Homo sapiens: one gene and its partners. The protein of the gene in region 1 binds, or shares a complex with, the protein of each later gene. Each region holds a gene or a part of one and is shown in the gene's direction. Other genes may lie near its edges. The genes, in order: RNASEH2B, PCNA, RNASEH2A and RNASEH2C.

The links.
Region 2: the proteins of RNASEH2B (region 1) and PCNA are in contact, whole or in part, in a crystal structure (PDB 3P87), measured with the Homo sapiens proteins. Residues at the interface, in NP_078846.2 of Homo sapiens: Asp290, Ser292, Gly293, Met294, Lys295, Ser296, Ile297, Asp298, Phe300, Phe301; in NP_002583.1 of Homo sapiens: Met40, His44, Val45, Ser46, Leu47, Glu124, Leu126, Gly127, Ile128, Pro129, Phe207, Ala208, Asp232, Val233, Pro234, Tyr250, Leu251, Ala252, Pro253, Lys254, Ile255, Glu256.
Region 3: the proteins of RNASEH2B (region 1) and RNASEH2A are in contact, whole or in part, in a crystal structure (PDB 3PUF), measured with the Homo sapiens proteins. Residues at the interface, in NP_078846.2 of Homo sapiens: His16, Phe18, Lys39, Asn42, Gly48, Ala49, Ile50, Val63, Lys64, Val65, Phe66, Lys67, His70, Phe74, Val79, His86, Phe87, Val183, Tyr211 (codon at 488), Gly214 (codon at 497), Leu215 (codon at 500), Asp218 (codon at 509), Tyr219 (codon at 512); in NP_006388.2 of Homo sapiens: Val227, Phe228, Ile253, Trp254, Glu255, Ser284, His285, Tyr287, Phe288, Arg291, Gly292, Leu293, Glu294, Ser295, Ala296, Thr297, Ser298, Leu299.
Region 4: the proteins of RNASEH2B (region 1) and RNASEH2C are in contact, whole or in part, in a crystal structure (PDB 3PUF), measured with the Homo sapiens proteins. Residues at the interface, in NP_078846.2 of Homo sapiens: Arg14, Gln15, His16, Val17, Phe18, Leu19, Val20, Ser21, Glu22, Leu24, Leu35, Met36, Phe37, Val38, Lys39, Leu52, Glu62, Lys64, Phe66, Glu68, His70, His71, Ser72, Trp73, Phe74, Ile75, Asn76, Gln77, Ser78, Val79; in NP_115569.2 of Homo sapiens: Ile9 (codon at 4,729), His12 (codon at 4,738), Arg13 (codon at 4,741), Val14 (codon at 4,744), His15 (codon at 4,747), Leu16 (codon at 4,750), Ser18 (codon at 4,756), Ala27 (codon at 4,783), Thr28 (codon at 4,786), Leu29 (codon at 4,789), His30 (codon at 4,792), Leu31 (codon at 4,795), Leu32 (codon at 4,798), Pro33 (codon at 4,801), Cys34 (codon at 4,804), Glu35 (codon at 4,807), Val36 (codon at 4,810), Ala37 (codon at 4,813), Val38 (codon at 4,816), Asp39 (codon at 4,819), Gly40 (codon at 4,822), Pro41 (codon at 4,825), Ala42 (codon at 4,828), Pro43 (codon at 4,831), Val44 (codon at 4,834), Gly45 (codon at 4,837), Phe48 (codon at 4,846), Phe63 (codon at 5,060), Val75 (codon at 5,096), Pro77 (codon at 5,102).

The regions. Positions count from the first base shown.
Region 1 is NC_000013.11:50,947,514-50,955,050, forward strand, and holds part of RNASEH2B (ribonuclease H2 subunit B), read left to right. Parts: intron 1-473; coding exon 474-555; intron 556-1,949; coding exon 1,950-1,992; intron 1,993-2,512; coding exon of another isoform or gene 2,513-2,596; exon of another isoform or gene 2,597-6,391; coding exon 6,392-6,472; intron 6,473-7,537. UniProt on the Homo sapiens protein: Non catalytic subunit of RNase H2, an endonuclease that specifically degrades the RNA of RNA:DNA hybrids. Participates in DNA replication, possibly by mediating the removal of lagging-strand Okazaki fragment RNA primers during DNA replication.
Region 2 is NC_000020.11:5,116,643-5,124,140, reverse strand, and holds the start of PCNA (proliferating cell nuclear antigen), read left to right. Parts: upstream 1-4,182; 5' UTR 4,183-4,342; coding exon 4,343-4,563; intron 4,564-5,274; coding exon 5,275-5,372; intron 5,373-5,463; coding exon 5,464-5,531; intron 5,532-6,476; coding exon 6,477-6,671; intron 6,672-7,498. UniProt on the Homo sapiens protein: Auxiliary protein of DNA polymerase delta and epsilon, is involved in the control of eukaryotic DNA replication by increasing the polymerase's processibility during elongation of the leading strand.
Region 3 is NC_000019.10:12,802,427-12,809,842, forward strand, and holds the start of RNASEH2A (ribonuclease H2 subunit A), read left to right. Parts: upstream 1-4,157; 5' UTR 4,158-4,247; coding exon 4,248-4,374; intron 4,375-4,581; coding exon 4,582-4,653; intron 4,654-4,779; coding exon 4,780-4,903; intron 4,904-4,992; coding exon 4,993-5,080; intron 5,081-7,416. Other genes in the region: THSD8 (thrombospondin type-1 domain-containing protein 8 precursor), read left to right, coding at 1,678-1,877. UniProt on the Homo sapiens protein: Catalytic subunit of RNase HII, an endonuclease that specifically degrades the RNA of RNA:DNA hybrids. Participates in DNA replication, possibly by mediating the removal of lagging-strand Okazaki fragment RNA primers during DNA replication.
Region 4 is NC_000011.10:65,717,689-65,725,462, reverse strand, and holds the start of RNASEH2C (ribonuclease H2 subunit C), read left to right. Parts: upstream 1-4,664; 5' UTR 4,665-4,704; coding exon 4,705-4,876; intron 4,877-5,045; coding exon 5,046-5,221; intron 5,222-5,298; coding exon 5,299-5,418; intron 5,419-5,653; coding exon 5,654-5,680; 3' UTR 5,681-6,281; coding exon of another isoform or gene 6,282-6,416; 3' UTR 6,417-6,508; coding exon of another isoform or gene 6,509-6,590; 3' UTR 6,591-6,713; coding exon of another isoform or gene 6,714-6,873; 3' UTR 6,874-7,774. Other genes in the region: histone acetyltransferase KAT5, read right to left, coding at 6,282-6,416, 6,509-6,590, 6,714-6,873.

The DNA.
Region 1 (7,537 bases):
AGACATGGTATTTTATTTCTCTTAAATGAGTACACTCATTACTGTTGAATAATTAGATTTATTCTTTATTGAAGCAGGCTTAGAAAAGATTACCCTTTTAAAAAAGACATGACTATTTCATATTGTTGTAGATGATTTTTAAACTTTATTTGTATTCAGTGGTTTCAAATAAGAAAGCAACCCTGAGTTTTTGTTTTTAATGTCATTTAGGGAGCATCTACTGTATTATACTTGTTTTATCTTATATCTTTGGTATCATCACATGTCATATCTCATCCCTCATATCTTCCCACTAGTCTGACCGATAGATATTACTATCCCCATTTTACAAATGAGAAAACTGAGGCTAGAGCTTAAGTGAGTTCCCTTTATCCAGATAGGGTCAGAATTTGAATTCAGGTCAATTTGACTATAAAACCACCATAATTACTATTTTTTTTTTTTGCTTTCACTCCTCCTTCTGTTTCTTTCAGAGGATTATATTCGTTATGCCCATGGTCTGATATCTGACTACATCCCTAAAGAATTAAGTGATGACTTATCTAAATACTTAAAGTGAGTATTGATTATCTTCAGTCATAATGAAGTACCATTTGCTTCTTGGTTTCCCCAGCAGTGGGGTTTCCTTATGGCTTATCATATCACTGTTTATGATACAAGATTATTCTTCAGCTATGTCATATACTTTGTGCTTTGGGGATGATTTTTAATGGATGATTGGAATGAACTGATTTGATGGATACGGATTGCAGGAACTAGTGAATGTCAAGATTGGAATTATGGCTTGGTCTGATTTTAGAGGATTAACTATGTTAAAATTTTATCCTCAATTATACTTAACTAATTTGGTTCTTTGTGATCGTTTTAAGAGGAAGAAAGGAGGGATGGAAAGAGTAGATGGAATATAGACTTTTTTTTAATTTACAAAATATTGATATCATTTTCACTATTATCACTAGATGTTCACTAAAGGGACTTTATGCCAAAGACTTGGAAGTCAAAGTAATATGAAACACAATCTGTGTCTTTGAGGGGCAGAAGAAGGGTTTTAAGAATGGTTTAATGTATGTTCCTTTCTTTATAAAGAGCTTATACATTTAGACTTTAAGTTGAAAAAGAAGTGTTAGAAGTGTTTATTTTCTAGATTTTTGCAAAATCGTTACTTAATTTTGTTGTTAAGATTTTATGTGTGTGATGATTTAATAGCTTTTCCTGATCCTTATAAATCCTTTTTATCCTCTGAGTCATGAAGATAAAATGACTTTTTAATAGATACAGTTGTTGGTTTTAGCAAATTCCAGAGGTCCTACTTTAAAAAACAATGATTGGAAACTGGTTTCTATAATAGTTAAAGTGTGCTGAAAGCCTGCTTCAAATTGATAATCATATCCTTCTGCTTAATATATCCCCAGATTTCTATGCTGCTTGTCTTGTTAGAGACCTCATGTCTTTGTACTCCATTGTTTGTATAGATTCCTTTCTTTCCACTAACATTTTTAAGTTTTGGTTGAAGAGTTCAGAAGAAAGGTATGCCAATTAAACTGCTTTCTAATGGAAGAAAAGTTGAAATTTATGTGGCTTTTTGTGAACAGTTAAAATGATTTTCACCTTTAAATATATGTTAGCATCTTCACTATGAAGAAAAAATACTCCAACACCGAAACACAAATTTATAGAGGCTAAAGAAAAGGAACTCTGTTCCAACAGATGGGTTCTAATTTTATTTTTTAGTTCAGACAACACCAAAACAAGGACTTACATATCAAAATAAAGACTCATTTATTGAGAAAACTTTCATTCTTTACACTGAGTTGATTGAACAGGAAGATATATGGAGGTAAAGCTGTAAGTTGAAAAGTAGGACTTACTAAGTCTTAAGTTGGCCCTGTCTTTCTGTTTGTTTGTCTATGAAAAACGATGACTTTGATTGTTATTTTTAACTTTCTTAGGCTTCCAGAACCTTCAGCCTCATTGCCAAATCCTCCATCAAAGGTAAGAAGCTGTGACTAAGATATCTTTGGGGGACTTAGAAAAATATTACACTCTTACCACATGAGTTTAGTTGGTTCTAATATATTTTAAGGTGTACTAAATCCATTTTGCATGGAGTGATGCCATGTGGAATAAAGATTGTACTGGGCTCTCCATCACTATTTTTTATTTTTGTGGATTCCACCTGAATGGTAAATAAAGTGCCATGAAAACCCAAGAAGAGTTGGTTTTAGCAAGGTACCCCTGTGAAAATATTAAAGACATATAGTTAAAATTAAATCTTCCTGCATTAGTTAGATCACTTAATTAAATTTAGTAATCACTAAGCATACTCTATATATAACTAAAACTCATTTTGCCAAATCTAATTGTCACTGGCACAAAGGTGAACAGAAAACAATTTCCATAATACAAAGAATCCTTTGAGCAAAGATGATCACTTTTTTTCTGAATTTGAAATGATTGATGAATTTACGTGTAATCTTTGTTAGTGGAAAATCTTTTCCTCATTCATTCTCAGGCTGCTACCCACAGCTCCTCTGCAGCTGGTATGTTTATCTCCTAGATCCAGAGAATGGAGAAGCCAATCATAAACCACACCTGACTGCAAATTGCAGCGTTCCTTCAGCCCAGGCCAGATCTCAGATGAGTTAAACTCTGCTCCAAGACAGGGAAATAAACATGTGCACCAGCTTGTCAGTGAGGTCATTTCTTCAGCCAGCAAAGTAACGGATGCCTTGAGAATGTAAAATGGACATATTGTGGATGTTACAAACTTTCCTTCTCCCTTGCATTGTTTTCTTGGCCTTCAAGGTAGCTAAAATGCTCATAATTTTTTATGTCATTCCCTGTATAAAGGTGGTGGTGGCTCCAAAGACATTGTCCTTAGAAAAGGACAGAAAATTGAAAGTACAGCAGTGTTTGTTTGGGCCTATGTTCAGCATGTTGTCAAAAAAAAATGCATGTTTTACTCTCTTGGAGAATAGCACTGGGCAGAAGTCTGTTGCTGTAAGATCTAAGGACTGCTCTAGGCCAGACCCATGCGTCTTTCATTCCGGTAGTTAATCTCTGACAGTAGCTCTAGAGGACCTAGAGAGGCACAGTTGTCTTGCTGAAACTAAGAGGGTAGGTTCTCAGCGTGCTTCTTATTTTTCTTCATCCAAAAATGAAGCAGATTTTTTTCTCCCAAATATCTATCTTCCTTAGTAACTTAGAGATCATTCATGAATTGATCTAAACCTATTCTTGAAAGCTTTAACCTTGGATACCTTTTGGAGTAATATGTTTCATAACTTTATTCTTCTCTGCTCCTGATTTCTGTTTTCTTATTTTAATTTTCAGAATTTAAGTTGTTTGTGACTTCATCATTTATGATTTAGATCAGAGATCAGCAAACCTTTTCTTCTAAAGCCAGACAGTAAATATTTTAGGCTCCATGAAGCAGATGGACTCTATTGCAGCTACTCAACTCTGCTGTTGTATTGTGAAAACAGCCACAGATAATACATAAACGAATGAGCATGGCTGTGTTCCAGTAAAACTTCATTTATAAAAGCAGGCAGCCAGCTGGATTTGGCCCCTGGGCCATCATTTGCCAAGCCCTGATTTTGATTTTGGCATCTTGCTCTTCCTAAACCCCAGCCTTGTCTTCTATATTATTTGAGTTGCTTTTCGAGGTCTTCTACTCTGTGTCTTTCTGGGGTTCCAGTGTACACATGACAAACTATACTAGACGATGTACCATCGTTTAAACAAGCGTAGAACATATCTTCTGCTAGCTTTCCTGTCTGTATCCAGGATTTGATTGATTTTTACAGTAATATAGTTGACTGTTTCCAGGAAATATATTCCAGTAGTCATTAGGTATCTTTGTATCTATGTTGTAATCGATAGCGTGGAGCCTGTCATCTTTAATATGTTTTATATTATTTTCCTTTACTATCATATGTCTGCCTTTGTTGAAACTCAGCTTCCAACCCTCACTTGCTCCAGTCTTTTCAATTTGTCACTGTCAGCAAGCAGAGTTGAATGCAACCAGTGGGTTTGGAGATGTTCCCGAGTTCCTTCTTGCAAATCATTTGTAAGAAGGCCTAACATTATCCCTGTGGTACTCTGCAGTTTGTTCTCTTTCCAGAACTGTATCCATTTAGTCATAGCCTTTGTTACTGTCTTTCTGAGCCACTTCTCTGCTGAAACAATCTCCCAAATCCATAGGGATTTGGTCTTTTAAATAACAAAAATTTTAGTAAATGCTTCAATCATCTTTTTTTCCAATATATTCAACAGTGCACTGGGAATAACATACAAACTAGTTATATGTAGAGGCTACCACAATCATTTTCTTTTTTTAAACACTTGTAACTGGTATCTTGTTTTGTTGTGAGCTATTAAAACACCTGAACAAGTCATTTCTCCAATTAAACATTTTATGTCCATACAAAAGTACCTTTCATCTTAAGTTCTTGTAATGAACACTTTTTATTTGAATTATCAATGAAAAGTGAACCTCATCAGTTCAGTGGCACACACTTGTAGTCTTAGCTACTCAGGAGGCTAAGGCAGAAGGTCGCTTGAGCCCAGGAGTTCAAGGCTGTAGTATATGATGATCGCAACTATGAATAGCCACCGCACTCCAGCCTGGGCAACACAGTGAAACCCTGTCTCTAAAGAAAAAAAGGGAATAATGTCTAAGTGTTTATAATGACATCTGTGTTAGGAACATTTTGCCATAGAGAAGGAACACAAGCATCCTCATAACTTCAAGCTTTTTGTGTTTTGAAAATATTTTGGCCTTCAGCATTATTAGCTGTGAGTTTCACCCTCCTAGCTGAAGATACCTTTCTAGTAAAAAATGTGCATCACCTAAACACCCTTTGCTGTCTTAATTTAAATAGAAACATGTATTTTTTTTTTTGAGACAGAGTCTTGCCGTGTCATCTAGGCTGGAGTGCAGTGGCACAATCTCAGCTTACTGCAGTCTCTGCTTCTCAGGTTCAAGCAATTCTTGTGCCTCAGTCTCCGGAGTAGCTGGGACTACAGGCACATGCCACCATGCGCAGCTAATTTTTATATTTTTATTAGAGATGGGGTTTTGCCATGTTGGCCAGGCTGATCTCCAACTCCTGGCCTCAAGTGACCGCCCACCTCGGCCTCCCAAAGTGCTGGGATTACAGGCATGAGTCACTGCACCAAGCTGAAACATATATTCTTAACAAAGTTGCAAATATACATTCACTTGGTGCTGATAGGTGGTTCATTTGTGATGGATTAGTCTTTTTCTTTTAATGATTCATTTGCTAGAGGTTGCTGTGTGGCCAAGAGGTTTTCCTATAGTGTGTGGTATATTCCCAGGATGAGCCTCTGTTTTTTTACAGCAAACAATTTTAAGACATGGTGTTTTATCCTCTTGGGTTATGGGATAAAACACCATGGGCTGTGGAATCTTTTAGCACCAACTCTACCCGTTCTTTGTTTAGCAAAGCAGGGGCATGAAGAATGAAGCTGGGAAGAAGTCTGTTTCCTAGGTTAGATCCATGTTGGGTCTGGTCAACCTGGTGTCTCCATAAACAGCCTGAAAATTATAAAAATCTGGGTTGTGATCACCATGCAGTCAATTCTCCATGTTCAACAGCAAGACTTGTCTTCCCTGCTTTTGTACCTTTTACATAATAAGTGTGGCATGATTTCTTCTATATTGTGATCATTAAGGCCTTGACAAGATTCTCACATTCACTGGTGTAAAATGTTCATGTGAAAGGAGAAAATATTAAGTAAAGGTCTGACTTAGTTGCATTGGGCCTAATGGAAAGAACACTGTATCAGAATTGAAATCTTGGCCAAAGTCCTCTACTTGGTGACCTTAAGCTATTCATTTAGCCTCTCTGTGCTTCCCTCTCTTACTGGCTGCTTGCTTGTGCAAGGTTGTTCTTGCATGGATAAAGTAAGATAAATATTGTCCCTTCATTCATAAGTGGACATTAAACTGGCCCAGGAGGTAAATGAAATAGGGATTCTGGCTGGACACCTGGCCCCCTTCAAGAGACTATTCTCATTTTGACTTCTGTGCCTTGCATTCATCTGGTAATTAGCAATCCCCTCATGCCCACCACACCTGGCACCTACAAAGCCTGTGTTTGCTGGACCAGCTAAGGGGCTCAGCCATGTACTTACCCAATCATATCCACCATCACCAAGGCTGCTTCTTAGGAGTGATGTGTGGCTCAATTCCCTAGATGATTGGCAAAATGTAAAGGAGCCTGTAAAAAGTAAGCCCTTTGCTGGGTCTGCTGTCCCATTCGCCTCTGTAGAGGTCTAAATTATACATGTTGGGTTTTTTTTTAATGGATTGATGTTGTGTCAAAGTGACATTTGACACCACTTCACTGCTCTAATGTTGCAGAAAATAAAGTTATCAGATGAGCCTGTAGAAGCAAAAGAAGATTACACTAAGTTTAATACTAAAGATTTGAAGACTGAAAAGGTATGTGGGTTCAGGTGTAGTGGTGTTTCGTTCATACTCAGTGCGTGATGTGCATGAATACATGAGGAACAGTTGCACGCTTGATTGTGATTACAGTTTTGACCAGGAAGAATTATTAACTTGCATTTCTGTGACTTAATAATTAAGAATTGCATATGACAATGAAAATGTTAAGCAACTAAGACTTATTATTAGTCAGAGAAAAACAATATACTACTTATCAAGAGTGTGCCTAAATTTTGCTATGTATTCATAGAGTGATAGGGTGGGAAAGGAGGGAGGAAGCTCTACAGGTAATTTTTTGTCAACCCTGCTGCCCAGAAGCAGAAATTATGATGATAAAAATTAATAATTTCACCATTCAGCATTCACCCTGGCAAATGGCATTTTGGTAACAGTCCTTACTTAGTTTTATACATGCATTATAAATACATATGTGGCCTTTAACATTGGCATTATAATACTCAGTTCTGGGCTTTTTATTTAACATTAAATTGTGAAAATGTTCACATATCATTAAACATTCTTTGAAAAAATATTCATGTTTTTATGATATTCAGTCATGGGTGTTTGTTTCACCATATGGAATGTAATTTAATCATTTCCCTATATTTGGACATATAGGTTACTTCTGATTTTTTTATTTTTTGTTTTTATTGAAGTGATAGACATTCTTATTTACAGTCTGTATCTCCAATCATTTCATTAGACACAATTTTGAACTAAGACTAAGAGCTTGGAGAACATGAATTCTTTCATAATTGAAATATATATAGCTAAAGTGCTTTTCAAAAATGGAGAAAGTTGTGCTTCCAAACATTATTGCCAATGAGTATTTATCTTGCATTTTTGACGACATTGAGTATTGCTTTTATTCTTGAACATTGTTGCCTGTCAAATTAGGCTACATTTCTTTAACTAGAAAGGTTCTTTTTCCAAATGCTTATGGCCCATTTGCATTTTTGCAAATTGTTGGTTCCTGTCGCTTGCCTGTTTTTATGTTGAGATAGTAATGTTTCTCTGTTGCTTTGTATGAGCTCATTCTAAATTAAGGCTATTAACACT
Region 2 (7,498 bases), on another chromosome or scaffold:
CACCAGGTGTTAACATGATTTTTATTAATTTGGTAGGTTAAAATTCTGTCTCCATTGAATTTACATTTCTTTGCTTATTAATGTGGCTAACAAACTTCACGTTTATGAAGACTAGGACTGGACAGTGGAGGCCAGATACCTCTGGCTTTTTGTTTAGATGAATAAATTTTCTATTTCTCTTAATCCATTCAAGTTGAGTTCTCTGTCACTGAAACCTAAACTATACTAACCAATATAATCCTTTGAGGCATACTGAAGTCTTAAAACTTGTATGGTTATTCATTATGTTTTATGGGTTTTTTTCTTATGTTTGGAAGCCCATAGGAAGATCTCATAAATATTTACCAAAATATTTTTCCATTTCTTATTGGGTCAAGATTTGAATTTGAATTCTTTATCTAGAATTTAGTGAATAATTATTAGGAAAAGTCTTTTTTTTTTTTTTTGAGATGGAGGTTTGCTCTGTCACCCAGGCTGGAGTACAGTGGCGCAATCTTGGTTCACTGCAACCTCTGCCTCCCGGGTTCAAGCAATTCTCCTGCGTCAGCCTCCCTAGTATCTGGAATTACAGGTGTGCACCACCACGCCCAGCTAATTTTTGTATTTTTAGTAGAGACGGGGTTTCACCATGTTGGCCTGGCTGGTCTCGAACTCCTGACCTCAGATGATCCACCTACCTCAGCCTCCCAAAGTTCTGGGATTACAGGCATGAGCCACTGCGCCCATCCAGAAAAGTCTACAGCTTTTATTCTTTTCTAATAGTTTAACCAATTATCTGATCAAAATTTACTTCATTCTTTCTCCCACTGATCCAATAGTACCTTTACTAGATGTTAGAGTAGCCACTTAAAATGTAAATTGGATCACATCAAAGATCTGCTGTTGACCACATTCCCTTGCACTTTTAGAGAGCCTACAAAGTCCTGCAAGAGCTCACCCCAGCCTCTCTGCAACCTCACCTTGCACCACTCTTGCTTCAGACACATCAGTCTGAGTTCTACATCAAACTTGTCTGAATATATTCCAAGTATGCTGACCTTTATAATCATGCTATTCTCTCAGCCTAGAATGCTTTTTTCCAACTCTCCAAGCAGCTGTCTTCTCTGATAAGATGCTACCTCCTCAGAGAGGCCTTCTCTGACCACAGTCATAGGCATGTTTATGTCCTCATTTCAGTTTAACATAAAATTTACGTAACTGTACACCTCTTTATCATTTGACACTTTTAGGAGGACATCACTTCTGTAATAGAGCAGAAATAAACAGATTGATGTACATGGTGGATCCCCCATGGATAGAGTTTGTCATTTAAAATGTCTTCAAATCTATTACATGTAATTTGGCATTAAACCAAAATGTTATTATGTAAGCAGACAGAACTGAAACAGAGTAGTGGAGCATATGCATTTGTTTTTAGTGAAGCAAATGTTCCTCACTGGAGGAAGGAACACATTCCACATTTTGCAAAGGAACTGAGATTTTAACGGACCCAAGAAAGGAAAAGAACCACAAACAGATGATGCTGTATTATGTTTTGATATTGAGATGTATGCAAATGGGTAGTCCATCACACATAAAGCAAGAAAGTGCCAACATCAAAACTTACAAATGAGTAGCAGAGGCTTGCAAGAAATTCCAGAGACAATAGAATAGCACTATTGAAAAATACTGCATCATCAATACCCTTGACAACACAGAGTAGGATATTATACAGAAAAACAGCAGAATCAGCAACTAACTGAGTGGAGAAACAGTAGGAATGCCTTAACCAATGTAGCTTAAATTTTTTCATGTTTGCACAAGAGTAATATATAATAAGAATGTTTTTAAAGTCTAAAAGTTCTTTTAAAACAAAATAGACCCGGGCGCGGTGGCTCATGCCTGTAATCCCAGCACTTTGGGAGGCCAAGGCAGGCAGATCACATGAGGTCAGGAGTTCAAGACCAACCTGGCCAACATGGCAAAACCCCGTCTCTACTAAAAATACAAAAATTAGCCAGGTGTGATGGCGCATGCCTGTAATCCTAGCTATTCAGGAGGCTGAGGCATGAGAATTGCTTGAACCCAGGAGGCGGAGATTGCGGTTAGCCAAGATCACACCACTGCACTCCAGCCTGGGTGATAGAGTGAGACTCTGTCTCAGAAAAAAAAAAAAGAAAAAGAAAAAGAAAAAAAAAAAGAAATTCTAAGTGATAAAGCATTGTGTAACAGTTTGAGGCTGGGCACAGTGGCTCATGCCTGTAATCTCACACTTTGGGAGACCGATTGGGAAGATTGCTTGAGCCCAGGAGTTGGAGACCAGCCAGAGCGACATAGTGGGACCTTCTCTCTACAAAAACATTTAAAAATTAGCCAGGTACAGTGGTGCACCCCTGTAGTCCCAGCTATTTGGGAGGTGGCAAGAGGATCTCTCGAGCCTAGAAGTTGGAGGTGGCAGTGAGTAGTCATCTTGCCACTGCACTCCAGCCTGGGTGTCAAAGGGAGACTCCCCTCTCTAGAAAATAATAAAAAAAAAAGTTTGACAGTTTTCTTGCTTGTGCTACATAAAATAATGGTACATATTACAATTGAAGGCATCTTATAATAGAAATGCCCTTTCCTGTTCCCTTTTAAGGCTGACCCAGTGCTTTAAGAGGCTGATACAGAAGGGTAAAGTTAAGTCTCCACAAAATCCAGGGAAGAGACTGTGAAACTCATCTTAGAACCTTGTATGGAGTCACAGCTGAACTAGGAAAAAAAAAAAAAAAAAAAAAAGGAAAGAAAGGCATTCCAGAGATAAAGAATAGACTAAGGAGAGGAGATATTTGAAGCCATAATGATTGAGAATATGTCAGACTTGAAATGAATCTTCAGTTCCCTCAACAAGACAAATAAAACTAACTCCATACCTAGATACATGGTAGAAAAACTAAAGAATTCTGCTGACCAAGGTATTAAAAGTAACTAAAGAGAAGTGGTGTGAAGAAAGCAAGAGAGAAACAACAAATCCTGTCCATCCTGTAACAATTGAAAATTTCTGGCTGGGCGTGGTGGCTCACGCCTGTAATCCCAGCACTTTGAGAGGCCGAGGCAGGTGGATCACCTCAGGTCAGGTGTTCAAGACCAGCCTGGCCAACATGGTGAAACCCCGTCTCTACTAAAAAAAAATAATAATAATAATACAAAAATTAGCCGGGGGTGGTGGTAGGCACCTGTAATCCCAGATACTCGGGAGGCTGAGGCAGGAGACTCACTTGAACCTGGGAGGCGGAGGTTGCAATGAGCTGAGATCGCGCCACTGTACTCCAGCCTGGATGACAGAGCAGGACTCCATCTCAAAAAGAAAGGAAAAGAAAAGAAAAAATATTAAATGTGTACGCTCTTTGACTCAGCTGTATTACTTCAAGGAGTTGATATCACCAAAATTGCCTAAGTGCTCAAAGGTGTTTGTAGTTAAACAACAGGAGATTGATAAATTATGTTATATACATGTGATGCTATGTTTTAAAGAGGTACTGATATGATAAAAGATGTACGTGGCATAAAATTAAATGTACTTTATTAAGTACTTTTCCAAGTGTTTACGGAATGAGTGCATTTTTGAAAAAAAAAAAGTGTATTCGAACTTTTAAAAAAGCTTTAAAAGCTTTATACAATGAACGATTGAGTGATTATAAGAGCTGGCGGGGGAATGTTAAGAGGATGATAGGGAGCTAAGTTTAACAGAACAATTCACCTCTTTATCTTGTGACACCTACGAGCGCATCAATTCTGTAATTGAAAAATAAAGTGCATATTTGCAGCAGCTGTACTCTCTTCAGGCTGCAAGGAGGCTTTTCCTCCCGGTAGGCTTGATTTGCATTTCACTTTCACTTTCGTGGCTGGAAACTTTCTACCCACGTAGTGGGAGGCTGAGGAGCCACCATAAAGCTGGGGCTTGACGAGCCGGGACCGGGACCCGATCTCCACATATGCCCGGACTTGTTCTGCGGCCGGGTTCAGGAGTCAAAGAGGCGGGGAGACCTGCGCGACGCTGCCCCGCCCTGCGCCCGCTTCCTCCAATGTATGCTCTAGGGGGCGGGCCTCGCGGGGAGCATGGACACGATTGGCCCTAAAGTCTTCCCCGCAAGGCCGTGGGCTGGACAGCGTGGTGACGTCGCAACGCGGCGCAGGGTGAGAGCGCGCGCTTGCGGACGCGGCGGCATTAAACGGTTGCAGGCGTAGCAGAGTGGTCGTTGTCTTTCTAGGTCTCAGCCGGTCGTCGCGACGTTCGCCCGCTCGCTCTGAGGCTCCTGAAGCCGAAACCAGCTAGACTTTCCTCCTTCCCGCCTGCCTGTAGCGGCGTTGTTGCCACTCCGCCACCATGTTCGAGGCGCGCCTGGTCCAGGGCTCCATCCTCAAGAAGGTGTTGGAGGCACTCAAGGACCTCATCAACGAGGCCTGCTGGGATATTAGCTCCAGCGGTGTAAACCTGCAGAGCATGGACTCGTCCCACGTCTCTTTGGTGCAGCTCACCCTGCGGTCTGAGGGCTTCGACACCTACCGCTGCGACCGCAACCTGGCCATGGGCGTGAACCTCACCAGGTGAGCCTCGCGGCCCCGGGAAGCCGGCCCCGGCCCGCCTGCACCTCCGGTGCTTGGCGGGAGCGCTTTCGAGCCTAGCCCTCATTGGCTGGCGTGGGCCATCCGCGCCTTCTCATTGGCCTGCCACGCAGTGGGGTGGGGCCCAGCTGAGCGCGCGGTTCGGAAAAGCCCGCGCTGGCTGCTGCGCGAACCTGCTTTTTCGCGCCAAAGTCACAAAGCGGGTGGTGGCGGGAAAATCAAGGGTTTTTCCGCAGTGCCAGGAACACTGTTCCAGGGCTCTTTGCTCACTAAATCCTGTTGGCCTTGAATGGACGCTTTAGCTGTGGCTTTCTTGTTTCTGAGACGGTCTCGGTGTGTTGCCCGGGCTGGTCTCCAACTTCTGGGCTCAAGCGATCCTCCCGGCTCAGTCGCGGTTGACTTTAAATGCTTTATAATGCCCTTGCGAGAAATGTGGCAGCCTGTCATCCTACTTAGTGGCAGGAGATTGTTTCTATCCAGAAGGGACACTGCTGGTGGTATTTTAGTATAAATACTGCCAGATGCGTCCCAAAACGTCTGCATTAATAATGGCATCCTCCAGCAGTCCGCTTACCCTCCACCAGTTCTGAGACGGCCTGATGGGTGAGAGTGGTAACCCCTTCTAACCGCGTTCGAAATACAGCCCTTCAGCAGACGGCGTTGATTTTAAAGCATGTGTCTCCTGTCTTCTAGTATGTCCAAAATACTAAAATGCGCCGGCAATGAAGATATCATTACACTAAGGGCCGAAGATAACGCGGATACCTTGGCGCTAGTATTTGAAGCACCAAGTAAGTCGTACCTTTTTACCGAGTCACGAAGCTACAGAAAATCAAAACTCTGTGTCAGTATTTCTCAAAAGCATCTGCTTTCTTTTGGTAGACCAGGAGAAAGTTTCAGACTATGAAATGAAGTTGATGGATTTAGATGTTGAACAACTTGGAATTCCAGTGAGTATCAGTTTCTCATTGTAGAGAGTGCTGTACACAGGCACGATAGTTATGTCATAGAATGTTTGTTTATTTTTACAGACAGGGTCTTGGCTCTGTTGCCCAGGCTGGAGTGCAGTAGTGCCATATAGCTCTCTCTAACCTGGGATTCCTGGGCTCAAGCAGTCCTCTTGCCTTAGTCTCCTAAGTGGCTAGGAAGGACTACGGGCCTGTCCCACCACACCTGGCTAATTTTTTCATTTTTGTGTGTGGGCGTGGGGGCAGTCTTGCCCAGGCTGGTCTGGAACTCCTGGCCTCAAGTGATCCTCCTCCGTCAAGATATGTTAATATAATTTAAGCCTACTTCATAACAACTTTTTCTAGAAATATATCTACTGGTGCATGTTTCAAAGAGAGATTTTAGTATTTGGATAGTTGTTCACCACAAGTCTAAAACTCACAGGTTAAATTTATTGTTTACTGCCAGTTGTCTATTTGCATTAACTTCCATGAACCTCTTTTAAAATTTGTTTCCTTCTAGAATGCTTGCTTTTTATTAAGTGGATTTTAAAGCTGACTTGGAAGAAATTTATCCAGGTTAGGTTTATAAACACCAAAGGAGAGAAGAAATGTTTGAATGTTGAAAATGCCTAATATATTCTCTTGCTTTCTTTTAGAAAGTAGTTAGGCCTGCTTGCGCCATCATGATTTCTGTGCCATACTCTAATGTTCTCTTACTTTATCCCTGGAGGATGAGGAGGAGGAGGCTCTTGTTCCCTGGATGGTGCATTTAATAGCCATTTATTTTTTTGAGTGGAGTTTGTTAAGAAATTACGCAAGTCATATTTTAAAGTAATCAGAAAATATTGATTCTGAGTTGTTTAGGTGTTGCCTTTTAAGAAAGTGAGGGTGCCAAATCATTAAATTTCTAACAATTAACTTTTGGAAAATTTTTGTTCTTAATAGGAACAGGAGTACAGCTGTGTAGTAAAGATGCCTTCTGGTGAATTTGCACGTATATGCCGAGATCTCAGCCATATTGGAGATGCTGTTGTAATTTCCTGTGCAAAAGACGGAGTGAAATTTTCTGCAAGTGGAGAACTTGGAAATGGAAACATTAAATTGTCACAGACAAGTAATGTCGATAAAGAGGAGGAAGCTGTAAGTAGTTTTTAAGTAAAAAGAAAATAGTTTGAAGAGAATTATAATACTGCTTATTAGGTTAATTGCTAAAATTAAAAGTAGACAGAATTGGATCCCAAGTAATTTCTGAAAATTGAGATACTGTTGAAATCTGCGAATGATTTATAAGTGTCATCCAATTTAGAATTATATTTGCAAGAAGGGAATACAAATTCAGCACGTGTACATACCACAGAACAGTGGTTTATGGATCAAGTCCACACCGGCTCTTAAGGGTAGGATTGGGAAGTTAGGCGTATAACCTTTAGCTTTCTGGAGATACTTACTCTCTTACCAAATAATTGAGCATAGGACAGCAGCTCAATAGAAGGATATGGTTAGGAGTAAAAGTCTACCTGTTTGGAGCACTTATGTAATCCTAATATTAGCTTACATGTTGTGGGTCCAATTGGTAGCCCATTTTAAAGGTGGAGAAGCAGGCTGAGCAACCTTAAGTGACAATTTAGCCAAAGTCACAGGCTGTAGGAATCAAAGGTTAAACAGGAAGGAGACTTCTCACTAAGGCTAGAAAGCAGACTCCATGCAACTTTGAGAGTACCTAGAGAGCCCTTGTTTAACCAAAATAGAAAGAACATGGCAAAACCCCATCTCTACTAAAAATATAAAAATTAGCCGGGTGTGGTGGCGCACACCTGTAATCCCAGCTACTTGGAATGCTGAGATGGGAGAATGACTTGAACCGAGGAGGCGGAGGTTGCAGTGAGCCCAGATCATGCCACTCCCCTCCAGCCTGGGTGACAGAGCAAGATTCCATCTTAAACAAACAAAAAAAACTCGCTAACCTG
Region 3 (7,416 bases), on another chromosome or scaffold:
GGGAAGAGAGGGTGTGGGCAGGACACTGAAGCTGTCACTCGGGGATAGGTGCCAGGAAGGGCAGAGACAGAGAAAGAAGGGGGCGGGCAAGCTTGGGAAATCAGAGAGGGTCCGATTGCAGAAGACCCGTGACCAGTGCAGCGAGAACGACAAGCGAAAGTCCCATATGGAAAGATTTGGGGAAAGAATGTCCAAGGAAGAGGGAATAGCAAATGCCAAGGTGAAAAGTCCTGAAGGAGAAATGGAAAGAGGTCGGTGAGGTGTGGCAGAGACATGGGTGTGGGAGGGTAGGAGGTGTCAGACCTTGGTGAGCGGTGAGTTGGGATAAGATCGGAGTTGGGATAAGATCTGTCTCATAGGGGAAAGGGGCAGATTCAGTAAAGAGCCCTTTAAAGTGATCACAGTGGCCGGCGCGGTAGCTCACGCCTATAATCCTAGCACTTTGGGAGGCTGAGGTGGGAGGATCCCTTGGTCTCGGAGACCAGACCAGCCTGGCCCACACAGCAAGACTCCATCTCTACAAAAAATATTTTAAAATTAGCCTGACTTGATGGCCCAGCACTTTGGGAGGCCGAGGCGGGAGGACTGCTTGAGCCCAGGAATTCAAGACCAGCCTGGGCAACATGGAGAGACCCCCTACTCTACAAAAATAAATAAATAAATAAAAATAAAAAATAAATTAGCCTGCCATGGTGGCATGCGCCTGTAGTCCCAGCTACTCAAGAGGCTGATACAGGAGGACCATTTGTGCCAAGGAGTTTGAAGCTGCAGTGAGCCATGATTATGCCCTTGCATTCCAACCTGGGTAACAGAGCAAGATCTTGTCTCAAAATAAATAAATTAAATAAATAAACAAACTGATCATAATAAATTGGTTTGTATATGCTAGCACAGCACCGGGAGATTTACTTACCTTCATTATGTCAATTATGCCATTTATCACTTGACAACCCTGCTGTCAGGTGGCATTGTGCCTTCTAGGTAGGGCCATGGTCACACCCCTGAAGACAGAAGTCAGCTTCAAATGGCGGGCACCAAGGATGTTGTAGGACACTCACAACTGGGCAGGCTGGCACAGCCTGGAAGTGTCAGGTTGTAGTTCCTCTGGCCCACTTACCCCGTATATGAGCTTGGAAGGTTGGCTTGCTGTCTCTGGGTCTTGGTTTCCCCACCTGAGACTCGTGGAAATATTAAATGAGGCCAGGCATGGTGGCTGGCTCACACCTGTAATCCCAGCACTTTGGGAGGCTGAGATGGGAGTATCACTTGAGCCCAGGAGTTCCAGACCAGCCTGGGCAACATGGTGAAACACCGTCTCTGCAAAAAATACAAAAAATTAGCCAGGCACAGTGGCATGTGCCTGTAGTCCCAGCTACTTGGTAGGCCGAGGTAGGAGGATTGCTTGAGCCCAGGAGGTTGAGGCTGCAGTGAGCTGTGACTGCGCCACTGCACTCCAGCCTGGGCGACAGAGCGAGACCCTGTCTCAAAAAAAAAAAAAAAAAAAAAAAAAAAGCTTAAATGAGATAATCTGTGGCAGGGTGTCTGGCATAGAAGCAGAGTCTAGCGAATATGTGCTTCTCTTATTCGTTAGTATCTTTATCTTTCTCCCTCTCTGGGGGAGGGGATTGGGAGTAGGCCCCCTCCACGTAGGTCTTCACCTCTGCCCTCCTTCTCTAGAAGTCGAGGACTCAATCCTTGGCCCGTGGGGAAAGTGGCGGTGTCTCTGCGACCTGGGCAAGCAGGAGCGCAGCCGCGAGGTAGTGGGCACAGCGCCGGGCCCGGTTTTCATGGACCCGGAGAAGCTGATCCAGTTACGGCCCTGCCGGCAACGGGATTGTCCATCCTGCAAGCCCTTCGACTGCGACTGGAGGCTCTGAGCCCGGGTGAGAGAGCAGGGCCGGGGCAAGTTGCGGGGCCCAGGGTGGGCGCGGAGGGAGGATGTGCGGTGCGGGGCGGGTATGAAGCGAGTTTGAGGAAGGGAGAACTGGGGCTCCAAGTCTTGAGTGACTTGAGGCTGATTTGGTTAGGGGGAAGCTGAGTCAGGAGCCGTGAGCCCCGCTGATATCTAGGGAGAAAAGGAGAAAAGTGGAGGGGGCGCCGGGCGCCGGGGCTCACGCCTGTAATTCCAGCATTTTGGGAGGCCGAGGCAGGCGGATCTCTTGAGTCCTGGAGTTCAAGATTAGTCTGGGCAATATCGTTGAGATCACCTCTCCATAAAAATTTTTAAAATTAGGCCGGGCGCGGTGGCTCACGCCCGCAATCCCAGCACTTTGGGAGGCCAAGGCAGGCGGATCACAAGGTCAGGAGATCGAGACCATCCTGGCTAAAACGGTGAAACCCCGTCTCTACTAAAAATATAAAAAATTAGCTGGGCGCGGTGGCGGGCGCCTGTAGTCCCAGCTACTCGGGAGGCTGAGGCAGGAGAATGGCATGAACCCGGGAGGCGGAGCCTGCAGTGAGCCGAGATCGCGCCACTGCACTCCAGCCTGGGCGACAGAGCGAGACTCTGTCTCAAAAAAAACCAACCAAACAAACAAACAAACAAAAACATTTAAGTTAGATGAGCGTGGCGGCACATGCCTGTGGTCCCAGCTACTCGGTACGATGGGGAGGAAGGATCGCTTGAGCCTGGGAGGCAAAGGTTACAATAAGCCGAGATCGCTACACTGCTATCCAGCCTGGGCAACAGAGTAACATCCTGTCTCAAAAAAAAAAAAAAAAAAAAAAAAAAAAAAAAAGTGGAGGGGGAGGCGAAGAGGAGTAAAAGGAGATAAAGAGACAATGAACTAGGACCCTGAGGAAGGGGCATGAGCCTGGTAAGGGGCGGGAACCCACAGGCAGAGGACATGAGCCCCAGTGAGCCCAGGGAATAGAAGTGGTGGATGCCAGGCACTGTGGCTGGCTCAGGCTTGTAATCCCAACACTTTGGGAGGCTGAGGCGACCGGATCGCTTGAGCCCAGGAGTTTGAAGCCAGCCTGGGCAACATAATGAGACCCCGTCTCTACAAAAAATACCAAAAATAGTCGGGCATGGTGGTGTGGTGTGCACCTGTAGTCCAGCTGCTTGGGAGACTGAGGTGGGAGGATCGCGTCAGCCCAGGAGGTGGAGGTTGCAGTGAGCCAAGATCGCGCCACTGCACTCCAGCCTGGACAACAGAGAGAGACCCTGTCTAAAAAAAAAAGAAGGCCGGGTGCGGTGGCTCACGCCTGCAATCCCAACACTTTGGGAGGCCGAGGCGGGCGGATCACAAGGTCAGGAAATCGAGACCAACCTGGCTAACACGGTGAAACCCCATCTCTACTAAAAAGTACAAAAAATTAGCCGGGTGTGGTGGCGGGCGCCTGTAGTCCCAGCTATTCGGGAGACTGAGGCAGGAGAATGGCGTGAACCCGGGACGCGGAGCTTGCAGTGAGCGGAGATGGCGCCATTGCACTCCAGCCTGGGCGACAAGAGCGAGACTCTGTCTCAAAAAAAAAAAAAAGAAAAAAAAAAAGTGGGTCGAGGGGTGGGGGTGGGGACATTCATTCTAAGTTGGGAGGAATGAGCTTCTATAGGGAGCAGAGACCCTGAGCAGGAGTCCACCGAGGTCTGTGATCTCCAACGGGGGTGGGGAAGGCTTGGCCTGAATGAGACAGAGGTTAGGAAGCACAGATCTTGCACGGAGTGGAGGTGGGCCGAAGGGAGCAACCAAGAGAGGGAGTTTGGGGACTCCAAATCCAAAAGCCTGGGTTTAGTGGAAGCGGGGCTACCTGGTCCAGGGGACTTAGAATGTGTACAGAAGCAGGGACCGCAAGTACAGGGCCTGAATCCAAGTGGCAGTTGGGGACCCAGTGATGCGGTGACCCGTGTCCTGGGAGTGGGGTGATATTTGACTCTCTAGTTCCCCGTTAGGCTGGGTCTTCGAAGCTACGTCTCAGTTTCCCTCTTATTTCCCCCTCTTCCCACCGGGCCACGCAGGCGGGGCCCCAGAGACCGTGAAGCAGAGCTTGCAAAGTGACCCCGTCCACCGAATTCCCCAAGCTGAGTGTTCGGCCATAGCCCTTCGGGACTACAATTCCCAGGAGGGCGCACGGCAGCGACGTCGGCGTCGGCTGCGTAAGCGTCCACGGCGGCGGGAGCGCCAGGGGCGTGTTCTGCCCGCGGATTGGCCGGAAGCAGGCGCCGCTTCGAGGCCCGCGGAAAACGCGCGCCGAGACCCGCTCCTGCAGTATTAGTTCTTGCAGCTGGTGGTGGCGGCTGAGGCGGCATGGATCTCAGCGAGCTGGAGAGAGACAATACAGGCCGCTGTCGCCTGAGTTCGCCTGTGCCCGCGGTGTGCCGCAAGGAGCCTTGCGTCCTGGGCGTCGATGAGGCGGGCAGGGGCCCCGTGCTGGGTGCGCCCCTAGGGCCAGGGAGGGGAGGGGCGTGGTACGGAGGATGCGGGAAACGGGAGTCGGGATTGCACTGCACCAAGGGAGGGGATGTGGTCGTGGTGATGGCACCTAAAGAAGCAGTGATGATAGAACAGGGATGAATGGCAACTTTCACGGGCTCAGTGATTGGACCCCGGCTGCCAGAAAACTGACACCCCTTCTCCCCAGGCCCCATGGTCTACGCCATCTGTTATTGTCCCCTGCCTCGCCTGGCAGATCTGGAGGCGCTGAAAGTGGCAGGTGAGCCCGAGGTGTGCGTCTGGGGAAGGGATTCCTGGGTATGTGCAGGGGCAGGTGAGAACTGAAAGGGGAGGGCAGGAACTGGGAGAACCAGCTGTTCCCCTTCTCTTCCAAACCTCCTCCCAGACTCAAAGACCCTATTGGAGAGCGAGCGGGAAAGGCTGTTTGCGAAAATGGAGGACACGGACTTTGTCGGCTGGGCGCTGGATGTGCTGTCTCCAAACCTCATCTCTACCAGCATGCTTGGGCGGTGAGGGGTCCCCGGGAGGGGCAGCCAGCATGGGCTGACCAAGCTTTGTTCCTAGAATGAGATTAACTGGGCTCTGTTCCCCACCACAGGGTCAAATACAACCTGAACTCCCTGTCACATGATACAGCCACTGGGCTTATACAGTATGCATTGGACCAGGGCGTGAACGTCACCCAGGTGAGTTAACTGTAAGTTGTCCCCATTTGGTCATCTCAGGATAAAATGGGGACAAAACAGGAGTTCGAGACTGCAGTGAGCCATGATCATGCCACAGCACTCCATCCTGGGTGACAAAGGAAGCCCCCCAACTCAAAAATGGAGGCAGGGCGCAGTGGCTCACGCCTATAATCGCAGCACTTTGGGAAGCCGCGGCGGGTAGATCACCGGAGGTCAAGAGTTCGAGACCAGCCTGACCAACATGGTGAAACCCCGTCTCTACTAAAAATACAAAAATTAGCTGGACGTGGTGGCAGGCGCCTGTAATCCTAGCTACTCAGGAGGCTGAGACAGGAGAATCGCTTGAACCCAGGAGGCAGAAGTTGCAGTGAGCCAAGATTGTGCCATTGCACTCCAACCCGGGCAACAGAGCAAGACCCTGTCTCAAAAAAATAAAAAATAAAAAATAAACTAAAAATGGGAGACCAGGCGCAGTGGCTCACGGCTGTAATCCCAGCGTTTCAGGAGGCTGAGGCAGGCAGATCACCTGAGGTCAGGAGTTGAAGACCATCCTGGCCAACATGGTGAAACCTCATCTCTACTGAAAATACAAAAAATTAGCCCAGCATGGTGGCGGGTGCCTGTAATCCCACCTATTGGTGAGGCCGAGGCAGAAGAATTGCTCGAACCCGGGAGGCGGAGGTTGCAGTGAGGTGAGATCGCGCCATTGCACTCCAGCCTGGGGGACAGAGCGAAAAATAAAAATAAAAATAAAATAAAAAATAAATGTGGGCAAAAATGTGCAGTGTGCAGATTCAGCATCAGATACGTCTGGAGTGCCTCGGGCATATTCATTGCTACTGTTGATTTCGTGCTCCTGTTTCTGCCCTAAATGTGTGCCACACTGACGACCACAGTGTAGCCCCTAGTCCCGTCTCCATCTAATCTCTCCCTCATCCTAAAGGCTCAGTCTCCAGAACAAATCCTACATTGTCTACCTGTCACCTCTGTCCTAGCCCAGGACACCCCCCACTCCCTGGACACCTGCTGAGTGTCGTCTCTCGTCCCTCACCCTCCTATCCCCTCCAATCTGTTCCCCAAGCAGCAACAGAAGGTAGTCTTTTTGAAATGCACATCTCGACATTTAGTTTTCCGATCACAGTGGAAATTAAATCAGGAAAATTCACAGTCGAGTGGGGCAGAATTACATTAAATTACCAGAGAAAAACATAAATCAGCATTGCCTCGAATGCTCTCAATGAAAGAATGGACCGTTCTGAGAGAATAACAAGGCAAAATAACCTTGACGTAGGAATTGTATGCTGGGTATGGTGGCTCACGCCTGTAATCCCAGCACTTTGGGAAGCTGAGGTGAGCAAATTGGTTGAGGCTAGGAGTTCCAGACCAGCCTGGGCAACATAGCGAGACTCCATCTCCACAAAAAGAAGAAGAAAGAAAGGAATTATAGCAAGGTAGACCCTGCTGAGGAGGGACCTGAGGACCAGGCCCAAATGCAGAGCTGGCGATACAGTAACTGGTGTAGACAGACAAGGGCCCTACCCGTAGGCGTTCAGGGCCTAGCCTGGGCAGAAAGATGGTCAGCTGGAGGTTGGGCGCAGTAGCTCACGCCTGTAATCCCAGCACTTTGGGAGGCCGAGGCGGGCGGATCATCAGGTCAGGAGTTCGAGACCAGCCTGACCAACATGGTGAAACCCCATCTCTACTAAAAATAAAAAATAAAAAAATAAAACATGAAAGATGGTCAGCTGGTAAACAAAAAATAAAGGTTGTTTCTGAAAACAGTAGTGCTGTGGAGATACCACTTTCCCCCAGCAGCTCTTGGACCCTCTCTTCGGTGCTGCAGCCAAAGGCCCCCATGCATGGGCCCAGCATCATGAACCTGGTCCCAGCTCAGGGCCTTTGTACTGGCTGTTCTCACACCTAGAGCCCTCTTCCCCAGATCTCTGCACAGTTCACTTCCTCACCTCCTTCAAGCCTTTATTCACCACTACACCTAGCTAACTTTTTATTTTTTGTAGAAACAGGGTCTCCATATGTTGCCCAGGTTGGTCTCAACCACCTGCCCTCAAGCGATCCTCCCACTTCGGCTTCCTAAAGTGTTGGGATTACAGGCTTGTGCTAACGCACTCTACCAATTTTTTTCTAGTGTTTTCTGCCACCTCAGTTCCTAGAACAGTATGTGGCATGCAGTAGGTGCTAAATAAGTTAGAGTAAAAGCAGCGTGATAGAGAAAGCCTCTTCAGGAGGTGAGTTTTTTCTTTATTTTATTGTATTTATTTTATGTTTTTATAAAGATGGGGTCTCACTGTGTTGCCAAGCCTGGCCTCAAACTCCCA
Region 4 (7,774 bases), on another chromosome or scaffold:
GTGGTGGGCGCCTGTAATCCCAGCTACTCGGGAGGCTGAGGCAGGAGAATCAGGAGAATTGCTTGAGCCCAGGAGACGGAGGTTGCAGTGAGCCGAGATTGTGCCACTGCACTCCAGCCTGGCTGACAGAGCGGACTCTGTCTCAAAAAAAAAAAAAAAAAAAAGGAGAGGAAAAAAATGCGTATTTCCTAGCTTTGTCCACTGGAAATATCTAGAAACAAAGGCTAACTCAGTAGCAATGAATACATCTAGTATCAGATTGGATTACTAAATATCATTTCCCACTGAAGGGAACCAGCGATCTTTGGAGAGATGTATAATTCCAAGTCTGGGGCAGGAAATGTACAAGATGAGCCAGGAACATCTTGTGGTACTGGAAAACAAAGATATGTATAAAAGATCACTAGGGTCATATCGAAAGATTCAGGAGATAACTTGAAGAGGCTTCCACTGGCAGAAGATGGGGAAATTTGCACCTCAGTAAGAATAATAACCACAATTATGTGAAACATAAAAGTGTTAATCCATTATTTATTATTTTTATTTATATTTATTTATTTAATATTTATTTAACATTTTTAAAAGGTCACCATTGGAATATGCTAGGGCAACAAATCATTATTTTAAGAACTGGAAAATAAAAGGATTTTTTTGAGATGCAGTCTCGCTCTGTCACCCAGGCTGGAGTGCAGTGGCTCGATCTCAGTTCACTGCAACCTCCACCTCCCGGGTTCAAGCAGTTCTCCTGCCTCAGCCTCCTGAGTAGCTGGGATTACAGGCATGCGCCACCACGCCCGGCTAATTTTTGTATTTTTTAGTAGAGATAAGGTTTCACCGTGTTGGCCAGGCTGGTCCCGAACTCCTGACCTCAAGTGATCCACCCACCTCAGCTTCCCAAAGTGCTGGGATTACAGGTGTGAGCCACTGTGCCCGGCCTAATTATTTTGTCTTTCTTATCCTCACTGTACCAACAGGCAATCAAATGGCTGATGGGGAGAGTTTTTCTTTATAGACCTATTTCAGCTAGTAAATGAAGAAGAAATGAGAGGACTTAGAATATCAGTTTTAGGCTGGGCACCATGCCTCACGCCTGTGATCCCAGCACTTTGGGAGCCCAAGGGAGGGGAGCAGATCACTTGAGGTAAGGATTTGGAGACCAGCCTGGCCAACATGGTAAAACCCCATCTCTACTAAAAATACAAAAATTAGCCTGGCATGGTGGCATGCGCCTGTAATCCCAGCTACTCAGGAGGCCAAGGCAGGAGAATTGCTTGAACCCGGGAGACAGAGGTTGAGCTGAGTGAGCCAAGATCGCGCCACCGCGCTCCAGCCTGGGCTACCAGGTGAGACTCTGTCCCAAAAATATGTGTGTGTGTGTGTGTGTGTGCGCGTACACACGCGTTTTAACCTCTAATGAATTAAAGGATCTAGGCAATGATCATCTATGGCTGCTAACCTCACAAAAAGAGGGAAAAACACAAAACCACCCATGAAGTAGTCTTGCCCTCTCCCCTCCCCAAAGAATCGAATTAAGCTTCTAGATGTAATTACAGAAAATACAGGTATAGATTACCTTGACACTATAGGAATGCAATTACTAATATCCAGACTACAGGAAACTTGCAAAACCAAAAACATAAAAATAAAAAATAAGATCCAACATCTACTCCCAATTTTTAAAAGCTCTTAGTAGTACAGCTTTAATGAGACATATATAACAAGTCAAAAGGCAGTTTCATGATTATTGGTGAAACAGCAGAAGCACTCCCGTGAAAGTTTCAGGAAAAAGACAATGTTGTCCTCTGATACCAGTAACATTTGAGAGACTGTTCTGCAAGTACTGGCCAAGGCAATTAGAAAAGAAAACAAATTACAAGGTGTAATGAAAAAAAAAAAACAAAAAACAAAAAACAAAAAGAAGATGTAATGGTGAGGTAAAAATTATTATTTGAAAGAGAGGTGACTAATTCTGGGGATCTTAAAATAAAATAAAAATCATTAGGAACAAAATAATTCAGTCGATATCTAGTTTAAAAATGGACATATAAAAATCAACAGGTTTGCTATAGACAAGGGGTCTGAAAACTATGGCCTGTGGTTCAAATCCAACCCCTTGTCTGTTTCTGCAAAGATTTACTGGAACACAACAACGCTCATTCATTTATGTATTGTCTATGACTGCTTTCATGCTATAACGGTGAAGTTGAGTAGCTGCGACAGAAGCCATAAAGTCCACAAAACCTAAAATATTTACTATTTGACCCCTTACAGAAAAAGTTTGCCAACCCCTGCTATAGATTAAAAAGAAAATCAGTTAGAAAATAAAATGAAAAAAATAAAAGCCCCAATTTTGGTTTTTAGAGAAAGGGTCTCCCTCCGTAACCCAGGCTGGTGTGCAGTGGTGCAATCGTGACTCGAACGGCAGCCTCAAACTCCTTGGCTTAAGTGATCTTCCCACCTTAGCTTCTTGAGTAGCTGGGACTACAGGCACATGCCACTGTGCCCCACTCATGTTTAAAAAAATTTTTTTCTTTGTAGGAACGGAGTCTTGCTATGTTTCCCAGGCCGGTCTCAAACTCCTGGCTTCAAGCAATCCTCCCCCATCTTGGCCTCCTAAAGCACTGGAATTACAGGTGTGAATCATCATGCCCAGCCCCTCAGTTCTTAATAGAAACAATTATTAATATAAGCTAAGAAGAAATAAACTTTACAATATGTATTAATAGCTATTATATATGAACAAAACCTCACAACTGTACAGATATCCAAGGAGATGTGAATAAATTGAATTATGTCTTTCCTGATAGAAAACTAAAGCAAGCCTTTTTCTAAATTAATCTGCCACTCTAGTGAAAGAGCACCAGGAATACATCTGCAGTTGAACAAATTGGGTATATTACTCCTGCACTCTGGGGAATTTCAATAAGAGGGTGCTAGAAAGGACTTATAGGAGGATTTGTGCCCATGTTCAGTGATTTCAGTCAGGGTTTAGGGAAGCCAGGCTTCTCTCTGGCTTGGATGCTGTCAGAGGTGGGGGTATGTCTATGACGGACTATCTTAATGAGTCTTGCCCAGAAGGAGAGAAGATTAGTTGGAGGCTAATGCTGTAATTGGTAAGGAAACAACAGTCACTCTCTTATGGGAGAAAGAGGGATGTTTCATGCCTTTTGTGGTTTGGACAGTGTTCACCTTTGCCAGCATTCAGATGTGACGATGGAGTGGTTCTGTTTCTGTCTTGCTCCCTCACGGTCACAGAGTGACCTTGTCCGATGCTGATGTTCTCTGAAATTGTTTATATTCAACAGAATACCAAGGCCAGCTCCCAGATGTGCAGGGATGTATAAATTAAACGCAATTTAAATCTAAATTTCCAGTTTTGTGTTTGTTTTATGTGAGAACTTGAAAAAATATATCTAAGTTGGGTGTCTGAACAAATAAACATTAGAGAAGAGCTGAGAAACCAAAGAGAGAAAATTGTGAAATCTAAAAGACTGAAAAGTGTTGATAAATTTGACTACAAAAAATTAGTCTTTGTCCTGGGTGCAGTGGCTCACGCCTGTAATTCCAGCGTGATTTGGGAGGCCAAGGTGGGCAGATCACTTGAGTCCAGGAGTTCAAGACCAGCCTGGGCAACATGGCAAAACTCCACCTCTACCAAAAATACAAAAATTAGCTGCGTGGTGGCGCAGGCCTGTGGTTCCAGCTACACAGGAAGCTGAGGATGGGGGATGGATTAAGCCTGGGAGGTCGAGGCTGCAGTGAGCCAATCAAACCACTGCACTCCAGCCTAGGCGAGTGAGACCTTGTCTAAAAGACCAAACAACCACAAAAATAAGTCCTTGTCCAGCAAAAATCACCTTTACACAGGTTTGCAAGACAGACCACAGATAAAACATTTTCAATGCATTTAAGAAAAGGGTTGATGTCCCTAATAAACTAAAAATGAATAACCTACCTACTAATCAATATAAAAAGAGTACTTTTCAGAATCGTTTTAGATTTTTACAACGACATGTGCCATTAAAAACAATAAAAGAAAAAAACCCGGCTGGGGGCGGTGTCTCACGCCTGTAATCCAAGTACTTCAGAAGGCCGAGGCTGGAGGATCGCCTGAGGTCAGGAGTTCGAGACCAGCCTGGCCAACATGGCGAAACCCAGTCTCTACTAAAAATACAAAAATTAGGTGGGCATGGTGGTGTGCGCCTGTAATCCCAGCTACTCCGGAGGCTGAGGCAGGAGAATCGCTTGAACCCGGGAGGCGGAGGTTGCAGTGAGCTGAGACCGTGCCTGGCACTCCAGCCTGGGCGACAAAACGAGACTCTGTCAAAAAAAAATAATAATAAATAAGAAAAAGAAAGAAAGAGGGAAGGACGGGAAGGAAGGGAAGGGAAGGGGGGAAGGAAGGGAGGCAGGGAGGAGGGGGAGGGGGGAGGGGGAAGGAGGGGGGAGGGGGAAGGAGAGGGGGAGAGGGGAGGGAGGAAAGAGGGGAGGGGGGAAGGAAGGAAGGAAAAAAACAAAACACAACTGGAAAACCCTAGGACTTGAACCCAGGGAAAGCGTTAGGGGGTAAGGGGACTACACTTCCCGTGAAGCTCCGCGGCGGCTTCCCGTGAGGCCCCGCGGAGGCTTCCTGAGAGGTCCTGCGCGCTTTCCGCGCCAGCTTCAGTGTCAGCTCGCGAGCCCTGGCGTCGCGTAGGAGGGAGGATGGAGAGCGGCGACGAAGCGGCCATCGAGAGGCACCGCGTCCACTTGCGCTCCGCCACATTGCGCGACGCCGTACCCGCCACACTGCATCTGCTGCCCTGCGAGGTTGCGGTGGACGGGCCCGCCCCGGTGGGGCGCTTCTTCACGCCCGCCATCCGCCAGGGCCCCGAGGGTGAGCCCTGCGGCCGGACTACGGCTCCCGGCAGCCCCCGCGCCGGCCTGCGCGCTTCTCATCGCCTGGGCTCCTGGGGATCGTGGTCCGTCCGGAGGTGGCGGGAGGGCAGCTCCGGGCTCGACCCAGCGTGGGTCCTGCCTGAGGCCCTTTGCGCCTCCCGCTCCAGGACTCGAAGTGTCGTTTCGGGGCCGCTGTCTACGGGGAGAGGAGGTGGCGGTGCCGCCTGGCCTCGTGGGATACGTGATGGTGACAGAAGAGAAGAAGGTGTCGATGGGGAAGCCAGACCCCTTGCGGGATTCCGGGACTGACGACCAAGAGGAGGAGCCGCTGGAGCGGGACTTCGTGAGCAAAGGGATAGGGTTGAAAGGGGGTGCGGGCGGGAGCTGTAGTCCCGATGCTGAGCCAGGCCCCTTCCCCAGGACCGCTTCATTGGAGCCACTGCCAACTTCAGCCGCTTCACCCTGTGGGGTCTGGAGACCATCCCTGGCCCGGATGCCAAAGTGCGTGGGGCCTTAACTTGGCCCAGCCTTGCGGCAGCGGTGAGTAGACGAGGAGTTCCGTCTTGCCCCCGGGTGGATGGGCTGGGGAGCACAATTGCGCAGACGGAGCCTGGAGGATTCTACTGGGTAGTGTGTGGGAAGCGTAGCTCCCTGACCACTCTTCCTAGCATGTCTAGAAGCGGTTATTCTGAACAGCTGGGTCCTTCCTCGGGTATGGGGGCCAGCTTGCCGCCCTGTCTTACAAGTCCAACAGTAGAGGCGACTCCTGTTGCAGATTCACGCACAGGTGCCCGAGGACTGAGAACCAGAGCTTGAAATTCAAAGCTGCGATCCCTTCACAGCAGTAAACCAGCTCTTTGGAACCGATTCCATCACCCCAATAAAGGAGCTCTTCACAGCACCTGTGAGTCTGGGCGCCTTAGAGCCCCTAAGCCAGCATGGGCCCTTTCCCCCTCCCCACCAAGAACTTTGCATGGCTCTGGCATATAGAAACAATTTATTGCCGGGGGCAATAGGGGTAAGAGAAGCCAGAAATTTTTGCAGCCAGCACCCACCCCACCCCCAACTTCTACTTTACAAAAGAAATTTTTACAATCACCAGCCCTCTGTACAGAGCTCCCCCATCCGGATCCCTTCTCACTGTACACAGCTGCCTGGCTCCCTCTGGTCCCTGCTTCAGAGGAGGCCTGGGCCTGTGGCCAGCTGACCTTGGAGTTGGTCTGAGCCCGGAGCTCGCCTTGGTGCTGGGCACCAGTGGGCCCCTGCCAGGCCTGTCCTCTCCTTTTTGAGCTGTCCTCAGCCCCATCTCCCTTAGAGTGCTTTGTGGGAGCTGCAGTGGGGGCGGGGTGGGCTATCAGCCCCAGTCCTGCTGCCGTCTTGGCACTGCAGTGGGCAGTGTCTGGTCACCACTTCCCCCTCTTGCTCCAGTCCTTGGGAGTGAAGTGCAGACACTTGGAGTCGATCCGCAGGAGCCGCTTGAGCATGGCCCGCTCATGGCCATCCACGATGTCCTCTGACAGTGTGAGGATGTACTGGCCCTGGGCAGAGGAGATGGGTTCAGCAGGTGGTCAGCCCACAGAGGACTGCACTCTGCATCCCACACACCTGTCTCCCCTGCCTGCCTCCCTACCTTGTAGTAGTTGATGAGATTGAGGTACTGCAGAGTGGAGATGACATCCTCCTTCTTGATGCTGGTGATTTCACTAATCTCACTGTGGGAGAGCACAGGTCAGGTTCCCTGAGGACCTTTATCTGTCCCCAGGAGCCCTGAGAGAGAAAGCCCAGGAACAGACAAGCCATGCCATGTACCCCCAGGTAGACAGCGCCAGGCTCACTTGATGGTGATCTGTGGCCTCTCCCCGCTCTCCGACTTCAGCCCCATCAGGATCTCCAGGATGGTCTGGGACCAGTAGCTTCGATAGGATAGGAGGCCAAGGTCTGAGAGGGGCTTCTCAGGGGTCCCTGTTTTCCCTTCCACTTTGGAGAGTTCATAGCCTAAAGCAATGGAGCAGGAGAGGGTGAGTAAGAGGTCACAGATGAACATAAGCAACATTTAAAAACACAGGTTGCCAAGGCAGGCTGCCTAGTTCCTATCATGGCCCTGCCACTTGGCAGTTCTATGCCCTCCACTTCTCTGTGCCTCAGTTCCCTCAGGAAGAACTGAGTATTCACTCTTTCCGTGCGCTGAGCACAGTGGAGGGCATGAGGGCACTGAGAGGAGCAGCTGCAGTCAACCATGAGGGTGATCAGAGGCCAGTGAAGGCTTATGGGCAGGGGATGCAGAGAAAATGGCTCATGGGAAGAAGGGGCCTCCAATTTTCCTTTGCCATCCCGGGCTCTGTGTCTAGCCATGTAAGGAAGTGGAGACAGATTCCTGTCTCTAATCCAGACCTGAGAATGCTTGAATTCTCAAAGTCCTCCTAGCTGGGACCTTGGGAGTGTCACCTGCTGTAAGACTTGAGTGGCCTGACTGGGTGGTTGTGAGGATGCAAGGAGAAAAGGTGCACCAAGGTGCTTCCTAAGTCGGGGAGACCATTCCTGGGAGCCACGTGACTGACCCCCACCATGGCTCTTTCCCTCCAACTCGTGCTGATAGCTGGCCGCTGGGAGGCCGTCCCCAGTGAGATCCTCAGACCCTGCACAGCCCTGAGTGGCTTCACATCTCTTGGTCAGTGTCTTCATTCTCCCCAGTCAGGGACCTGGGATGTTTGTTACTTCTAGAAGCCCTTCCTCACCCTCATAATGGACCTTAGCCCCTTGCTGGTCCCACTCACATCCCGTCTCCATTGCTGTCTGAGTTCCAAGACTGAGTTTCTTCAAGCATCCACTTGTGCTACCAGGCTGAGAAGTTCTGAGGATGTGACCCCATCTGGGCATCATTTAACCAATAAAATTT